Regions from separate parts of the Homo sapiens genome. Here region 1 is linked to region 2. Evidence: fine-mapped expression QTL. A gene starts in region 2. The other region holds a variant in brackets. All regions are shown on one strand. Distances are between the middles of the regions. Region 1 holds the start of MIR3671 (microRNA 3671). Region 2 holds the start of LINC01359 (long intergenic non-protein coding RNA 1359).

Region 1 (4,395 bases), 53 kb after region 2:
AGCAAAATATTTGAAATTAGCGTGGCAGGCAAGAACAACAGCTAGCTGTCTGCTCCAACTCTGTGTAGTATGATCAAGGTAGAATACTGTGCAGGATCTGGTGGAGGTAGTCTAATGTTCCTAAAACTAAAATCTGATTTTAGTTTTAAAAGCATGACCCTAAGTGAGGACTTTGTGATGAAACAGATACGGTCCACAAATGAATCCTTTTTACCCACAGCTAATAAAACATGTGATCCCTTAGGGAAGGTTACTGCTATTTCCAGCCTCAATTATTATATTCTTATTATCAAATTTAAGCATGTAACAACAAATAGGAAAACTATTCGTGACAGACAGCAAGCTGTAGAATGCTCCTTTAATGAAGCTGCTAATACTTGACTTGTAAGACTAACCAGGATACTTTTTAAAACTATACTTAATACTATTATTTCATATATTGTATGTTTATATTTTAATAACATGCCACATTTAAATGCTGCTTTAGTCTCTTATATATATGATTTTATATATATGATTTCCCTAAGAAGGGAAAGGTCTGGGATTGGTGAATCCTCAAGTAATTTGAAACACTAAACATTAGGAGTATTTTAAATTACCTGAGGATTCACCAATCCCAGACCGTTCCCTTCTTATGAGTTCTTCCATAGGTTGTCAGAAATTCCTTTTCTGTTTAAAAAAACTCCAAAGAATTTCAGGAGTGGTAGCATAACTCCAAAGACGTGGGCAGTTGAGGCAACTGGAACAGGAAGAGGACCAGTGAGTTGCCCAATCTCACCAGAAAAGACATAAAGCCAGCAAGAGATGCCACATCAGGTGACTTCTTGTCCACGCCTTTTTCTCATTGTTTTTAATATTCATTGCTACTATATTGAGTTTTCTTTACATTTTACACAATTCTAAAGCTATGCTATGTTGGAAACCCTGGAAACATGTGTAAAGGACTTCAGATTAGAGAACTTGAAATGCATAAAGACATGGCAATTACATTTTAATTGCTTACTTGAAACAGCAGTTATCTTCACACGGAAAACTAAGGGAGAGCAGAGAAATCAACTAAATCCTGTTTTTGGCTTCAAGAGGGTTATTATCCTGAATCTCTTTTATTGTGGTAAAATACACATAAAATTTTCCATTTTTAGGTGTACATTGTGTCATTAAGCACATTCATGTTGTTGTGCAACTGCCATCATCCATCTCCAGAATTTTTTCATCTTCCCCAAATACAACTCCATTAAACACTAACTCTCCATTCCCCCCTCTCCCCCAGCTCCTGGCAACCATCAGTTCCTGGCTGTATGAATTTAACGACTCTAGGAGCCTCATGTGAGTGGAATCATAACAGTATACACCCTTTTATGTCTGGCTTATTTCACTTAGCATGGTATCTTCAAGGTTCATCCATGTTGTAGCATATGTCAGAATTTCCTTCCTTTTAAGGCTGAATCATATTCCAATGTAGGTATACACTACATTTCATTTATCTACTTATCCATCAATGGACACTTGGGTTGCTCCTTTTAGTTATTGTGAATCATGTTGCTATAAACATGGGTATACAATATCTGTCAGAGTGCCGCCTTTCACATCTTTTGGGTATGTATCCAGAAGTGGAAATGCTGGATTATACGGTATTCCTAGGTTTAATTGCAATCTTACCATCTCACATACTTCACCTAAACTGAAAAATGTAACGAATATACCAACCAAACACACACTGTGTTTTAAGCAAGGCAGTGGAAAAACCCCATTGGATCTGTCTTGCATCACTTCTCTCTTAACCTGCTGGAACACCTTACGTCTATGAAATGCCTTGAAGATGCCAAAGACCTCCAGGTCCAGGCAAGCTTCTGGAGCTCCTGCTGCAGACTAAGCCTCAGCCTTCTTGTTTAGAGGAAAGGGGACCCAGCATGACTCTGTCCGTAGTGCAGGGTGACTGCAAATGACACCCAACACTCAGTTCTTCAACACCCCACAGGCCTGGTTGTAGATTTTGAGGTCAAGGTTGGGTAAGTATAAAACCCAATGAATTTTT[A/G]TAAAACTAGTAACGGGGAAAACAGGAAGATCAGGGAAGGTGGTGAAATCTTCACCAAGGCCAATGATTGCACAACACATAACTTCTTGAAGCACTTTTTTCCACCTGCTCAAACACTAAACATAAGGAGTGTTTCAAATTACTTGAGGATTCACCAATCCCTAACTTTCCCTTCCTAAAAGTTCTTCCAGAGTTTCTGTCAGAAATTCCTTTTAAGAAAACTCCAAAGAATTTCAGGAGTGGTAGCATAATAACTGGGGAGACCCCTCTCTCTAATTAATCAAAAACGTAGTGTAGCTTATATAGCTTAGAGAAATTGTGGATCTATGAGGACATGTGAAGGTACTGGGCTATAATGTGGTCAATGTGTCTGAAAAAATAACAGTTCTGGGCCAACCAAGTGTGGCTCAAGGGATCACTACTAAGAATGGTTCCTCTTTGGGTAGAGCAGAGGGAAGAGACACTAAAGGGAACTGCAATCACCAGCAAAGGAACACAGTGACCATCAATGTCTGAGGACTGGCACAATGAAGGATAAGAAAGAACCTCTCTGTACGAGGCCTACTCCCTTTCAGTTCCCTTTCTTCCCCATTGTGTCCCAGTGGAGGACCTGATAATACACCTGACCCATATCTAAGACATGCAGTTGGCAGGGCTGATAGTAGGTAAGGTTCACAGTATGTTAAAAAGTCACACGAGGCCGGGTGCAGTGGCTCAATGCCTGTAATCTCAGCACTTTGGGAGGCTGAGGGTAGGAGAATCACTTGAGGACAGGAGTTTGAAACCAGTTTGGGCAACATGGTGAAACACCATCTCTACCAAAAATACAAAATTACATGGGCATGGTGGTGCACACCTGTAATCCCAGCTACTCGGCAGGCTGAGGCATAAGGATCACTTGACCCCGGGAGGCAGAGGTTGCAGTGAACCAAGACTGAGCTACTGCACTCCAGCCTGACCGCAGACTGAGACTCTTTCTTTAAAAAAAAAAAAAAAAAAAAAAGTCACAAATGGTTTTTCTCTCCCTGGCCCCTCTTCTCTCTGTGGTAGGTAGGTTCAAATTACAGCCTAACCTCAGCCATCTCTGTTCTCTTTGCTCAAGCATATGGGTCACTGCTTTGGGTTCCTACACCAGTCAGACATCCACAGGCTCCCAGATACAGACATGAGCCTAGGATGAGGTAATATACCCGATTAGGCTCTGAGCCTAAAACACGTTCCATGAAATTACCTGAGCCTTCCTTGCACAGTACTGTGATCTAAGATCTAACACATAATCAAGTCATGCACTTTGTTTCTTATTTGCTATTGTTACATGTGTACAGTGTCCTTAGGAGTCTACAGGGAAGAGGGATAATTGGCAGAGATTGGCATTGGCAGAATCCTGGGTTCTCCAATAACCACCTTTCACCCCCAGCAGTACTCTCTAGAGTAAGATGGAGGTTGAAGATGTGTGCTGTTAAATTTCCTAATCCTGGCTGGGTATAGTGGCTCATGCCTGTAATCCCAGCACTTTGGGAGGCTGAGGTGGGAGAATCAATTAAGCTCAGGAGGTCAAGACCAGCCTTGGCAACATAGTGAACTCCTGTCTCTACTAAAAATTTGCAGGTGGGTGGCCTGAGCCTGTAGTCTCAGACTCGGGAGGTTGAGGTGGGAGGATTGCTTGAGCCTGGGAGATCAAGGTTGAAGTAAGCTATGATCATGCCACTGCACTCCCGTGTGGGCAACAAAAAAAAAATTTCCTAGTCTTTCATGCACGTGATGCTGGCTTGGTGTTTACAGCTTCGTATTCCTGAAATCGATATGTGCCAGATATCACTGCAGACTAGTCCTTATTTGATAGAAATAAAATAATTTACATTTTATTTTCATGTAAATGTGACAGCAGCAGCAATAACATAGGCATTCAGTAAATATTCTTTTGAATTAGGCCAGATCCTAAATATCCTGAAAGAAACATGACATGTCACTATCTACTCCTTCAAGACAAAGATATACTTTTTTTCTTTCTTCACTTCAGTAAGCTGGTCTACAATGATGGACTTTTATTTATGCAACAATTTCAATACTGTTCAACATATTGGGCTTTTTTTTTCTCCCTGTAAGTAGAATCTGATTTTGAAATCTAGTAGTGTACTGACAAGTGCCAAGCTGTTCTAATTAGGTTACCTTTCACATTTATAAAAATGGTACGAAGTTCTCTGAATACCATTCCAGAAATACTAATTCATACTTACCTATTTTCAGTCTCCTAAAGGTTCCAAAGATCTTAATATATGTTCACTCAGCACAACATGGCTGCACCAACAACTACCCCATGTTACAAAACAAGGCAAAGAGAAGCAGAATAACTCTCCCTA
Region 2 (4,395 bases):
CATCAGATTGTTAACAGTGGTTTTCTGGGTGGTGGGATTTCCATTTATTTTCTGATTCTGGAAAAAATCTGATTTTTCTGCAATGAATAATAATTATTTTTGTGATTTTTAAAAAGGAGGGTTTTTTTTTTGGTGGGGGGGCGGTTGGATTTTTGTTTTGTTTTGTTTTTGAGATGGGGTCTCACTCTGTGGCCCAGGCTGGAGTGCGGTGGCGCCATGGAAGTTTTTGTTTCTAAAGGGTCCTTTCCTTTGGAGCTCCAACTCTACTAAGAGGCCATTCATATTCCCAACATTCCAGGGTGCCCAAAGGAAAGACCTGGCCAGTTATTTCAGCATCAATTCACAAAATGGGGCGTTGGAAGGGGAAAAACAGCTGCTCTAGTTGGGCAGTGATTATTAAACCCCTCCCAAAAATGGAGTGGACAATTTCCAAGATCTCATCATGTTAGAAAACTTTCATTCGCCGATTTCACTTTTCAAGTGAATCCTAAAGCCTGTTTCCTTAATCTTCATAATTTTGGACATTCCACAGCCCGACCCACGCGTTTATCTTTCACTGGGCTGCAGTGATTCCCCTTGTTACCAAAAGGGGCCCAGCCTCCGCCAGCAGAGGCCTCCTGCGGAGCTGGGGGCGGGACCTCTGGGCTGGGTCCCCCTCTCCCTGTGCGCTGGCTGGCGGCGAGTGCAGTGACTGATTTCCTCTGCTCGCCTTCCCGGAGGTCCCCACCCACGCCACTGCCAACGCTCGGAGGAAGTCACGTTCAGGCCCCAGAGCTGGTCTGAATCTTCCAGGAGGAAAAGAGGGGGTGCATGTGTGCGTGTGTGTGTGGTAGTGTGTGTGTTGTATGTCTAAGAGGTAGCAAGTGTGTTTGTGTGCGTGATATGTGTGTTTGAGAGGCAGCAAATGTGTGTGTTGTATGTGTGTTTGAGAGGTAGAAAGTGTGTGTGTGGGGGGGGGGGTATGTGTGCCTGAAAGGCAGCAAGTGTGTGTGCGTGTGGTATGTGTGTTTGAGGGGCAGCAAGTGTTTGAGTGTGAGTGTGTGGTATGTGTGTTTGAGGGGTAGCAGGAACCCTAGCTTGGTGTCTGTCAGTAACTAGATGGTGATGCAGGTAAGTGATTTTCCCGTTGAGTGGATTAAATTCCTAGTCTGTCAGAGAGGGTGTTGACCTAGAATGACTGCGCAGGTCTCCTGTCCAGTGTTAAGGAGCGTGAGTGCCCTGATGTCCCCAGGAGTGCTGCAAAAAGAGCAAAATGGCATATATCAGGCGTCCCCGAGATGCTGGCATCTATGTTAAAACTATCTTATTTCATCTTCCAACTACTCCTTACAATAGGTGCCCTGATCCCAATACAAGATTGAAAACTGAGGCTCAGAGTCTGCGGTATGCTGTCCAATATGTATGTATACACAAACACACACACGTATATACGTATGTTTGTGTGTATATACGTATGTGTATATATGCACATATATGGGTGTGTATGTATATATTTTACAGCCCATTTGGGCAAATGAGTGAGCCCCAGCCAGAAGCAAGCGCCCCCGCTGCCCCTGGGCAGTGGGCTCGGTACCGCCACGCACCCGTCCTATGTGTTACCTGGTCGCTGCTCACTGGAGTGAAAGCCATTTAGTGGCTGATCCAAGGGAAGTATGAGCTAGTGGCATGTCGAGACAAACCTGGATTTGATTCGCAGCTCTGCCTTCTGTTTGACTACAAGCAAGTAACAAGCTTTTGGAGCCTGTTTCCTCACTTCTAAGTGACGCTAATTATAGTATGTACATCACAAGGATAGTGACATAAGTGATGACTGTGACCAAACTTGGATCACCAAGCCTGCACCCAGGGAGCGCTCAGTAACGCAGCGCTGAGGAGTAGGCCACCCCGGAGGGCTCCAGGTTTCAGCGCAGGCTTCCGCGGAGCCAGCTGGATGCGTCACCATCCGAAAGTGCGAGCCTGGCCGGCGGCGGCGGAGGCGGGGGCACCGCGCAGTTGGAAGCCCGGGCGCTCTTACCGAAAGCGCGAGCCCGGACTTCCCCGCCACGATCGATGTGGCCAGTCTGCGCCTGCCGCAGTTCCCGCTCGCACCCCGGCCCCTCGCAGAGTCCCAGGAAAGCGCTGTGGCGGGCGGGCAGTCTCTGCCCCCGGGAGGGGACGCACGCACGCGCTGCTCCTTCCAGGTCCCGGCGGGGAAGCGATGCTTTCTTGGCCCGGGCTTGGGGCCAGCGGGAACCGGGCTGTCCGGCCGCGCCGTCGCGCCTCGCACGGCGTGAGACAACCTAGCTTTTTTTTTTTTTTTTTTTTTAAGAAAAGCATTGGCACCGCAGCAGCCTCCCCCGCTTCTTCCCTACTAGGACGCCCGCCTGACTCGCCCCATTGCACAATTCTTACCGTGGAACAGCCGCGTGACTCGGCGGGAGCCCAAAAGTTTCCCAGGTTTCCTCAGCCTAGAAAAGCGTGGGTGGGTGTCCCGGCCTGGCTCCAGGCGCCCTTTAAGTTGTATTTCTTCGGGTAACTGGGTTGCCCTTTAAAATGTGGAGATTGTCCTTTAGAAAGAAAGAAAATCTCACGAGCTCGCTGGCCCGCCAGGTCTAGGTTGGCGCCGGGTGACTGCAATGAAACGCGTTTCTTTTCCCATGTACATTTTCAGACGGTAAAAGTGTTTCGATTTGTTTGGGGGAGAAGTCAGGCGCTGGTTTTAAAGGAGGAAGGGGAATGATGCTTAAAAGCAGAGACACGATTTGGAGCTCTCCAAGAATCATAGTGTTTATTAACAATGATTGTGCTTAGTAGACACTGAGAAAATATCGAACGAATGAGTATTTGGAGGAGGGATTTAAATGGGTGTCTATAGGCCAACGCTTTCATTCTGCTGATGAGAAAACCTAGAGGTTAAGTGATTTGCCCAAAGTCACCTAGCTAATTAATGTGGAAGGCAGGAATGGAATCTGTCTCGTTTTGACTCCAAATTCTTGTTATGAGATGGGTGCGTTTTCCCCTCTTTATGAAAAAAAAAAATGCCTTCTGTAGTAATCTCTGTAAAGCCTTACTCCACTCCCTCTGTCTACGCATCTAAAGCAAACATACAAAACAAAAAAGAAAACAGCAATCCCCAAATGCAATCCATGCACTCAAATAGGCTAAATTTGGCAATGCCAAAACAATATATTAACAAGGCATTTTAGTTCTTATTCCTATAAATAACACTTTTTTGTTTTGTTTTGTTTTTTGAGACGTATTCTCGCTCTGTCGCCCAGGCTGGAGTGCAGCGGCGCGATCTCAGCTCATGGCAACCTCTGCCTCCTGGGATCAACTGACTCTCCTGCCTCAGCCTCCCGAGTAGCTGGGATTACAAGTGTGCACCACCATGCCTGGCTAATTTTTGTATTTTAGTAGAGACGGGGTTTCACCATGTTGGCCAGGCTGGTTTCAAATTCCTGACCTCAGGTGATCCACCCGCCTCAGCCTCCCAAAGTGCTGGGATTACAGGAATAAGCCAACCTGCCTAGCCAATAGTACTTTCTTATTCACACAAAATATGTGAAGAAAAGGAGGAAGAGGAGGAGGAGGAAAAACAGAATAAGCAAAACAGTGCTTCTCCAAGATGATATGGAAAATACCAAGCTCCCACTAACCTTACTTTTGTAAGTAAGGTGTTTGGTGCTCTGCATAGAAACTGCTGGACTCGTGAGTGACCATCAGGGTTGATCTAAGATTGTCAGTTATTTCACTCAGGCTTTGACTGGATTTGTTGCTCATCTTTCAGAATAGACAGATGCAATCTGTGCAAACACAAGGGACTTCAATGACAATCTTGCAAATAGCTAGACAGCTTTTGTCTTTGACGTTTCTAGGCTGACCAACTATACCAAATGTCTGATTTAGGAACCAAAATTGCAAAACAAGTAGATGTGAAGATCAAAGGAATCAAGACTATAAGTAGGGATTATGACTAAAAATTCTTTTACGTGTTGTCTGTGGTGTTTCCACAATAATAATTACAATGTGGTTATAATAATATAATCCAAGTACAACTTCTTATCCAGGAAGAAGCTGGGACTTCCAGTGATGAGCAGACCAGAAGACCAAATTGTGAAATGTCTCATTTCAGCCAAATACCTTCTGAAATGGAGACAATTCTCATATTTCACTCTGCTATCTTCACTACCCTTTATTTCTGATATCGTGAAGGTGGGGATGTATACTAATGTCTAAAAATTTTTGAAATTCTAAGAGGCTAAATAGAATCTGCTAATTTTAGTTTGATAATCCACAATATTCCTGAAATCAAAGCATCATCTCCTATATTTTTCCCATACTGTGATTTCTAGTTTGTCATTATACCAGGCTACTGAATCTGAACTCAAGAAACAAACAAACAAACAAAAAGCATTT

What was found. PIP is the estimated chance that this variant, and not a neighbour inherited with it, causes the effect.
Region 1: its variant is fine-mapped to the expression of LINC01359 in whole blood (TOPMed, PIP above 0.99).

What each region holds. Positions count from the first base shown.
Region 1 is chr1:65,053,908-65,058,302 of GRCh38, forward strand. It overlaps MIR3671 (microRNA 3671), which reads right to left and starts at 3,935; the gene lies at 3,848-3,935. It also overlaps a transcript of JAK1 not described here. The variant A/G (reference allele first, on the strand shown) is at 2,036.
Region 2 is chr1:65,000,730-65,005,124 of GRCh38, forward strand. It overlaps LINC01359 (long intergenic non-protein coding RNA 1359), which reads right to left and starts at 1,747. Exons shown (of 7, transcript NR_119383.1): 1 at 1,600-1,747. It also overlaps a transcript of JAK1 not described here. RefSeq lists an enhancer at 1,763-1,842 and a silencer at 1,973-2,112.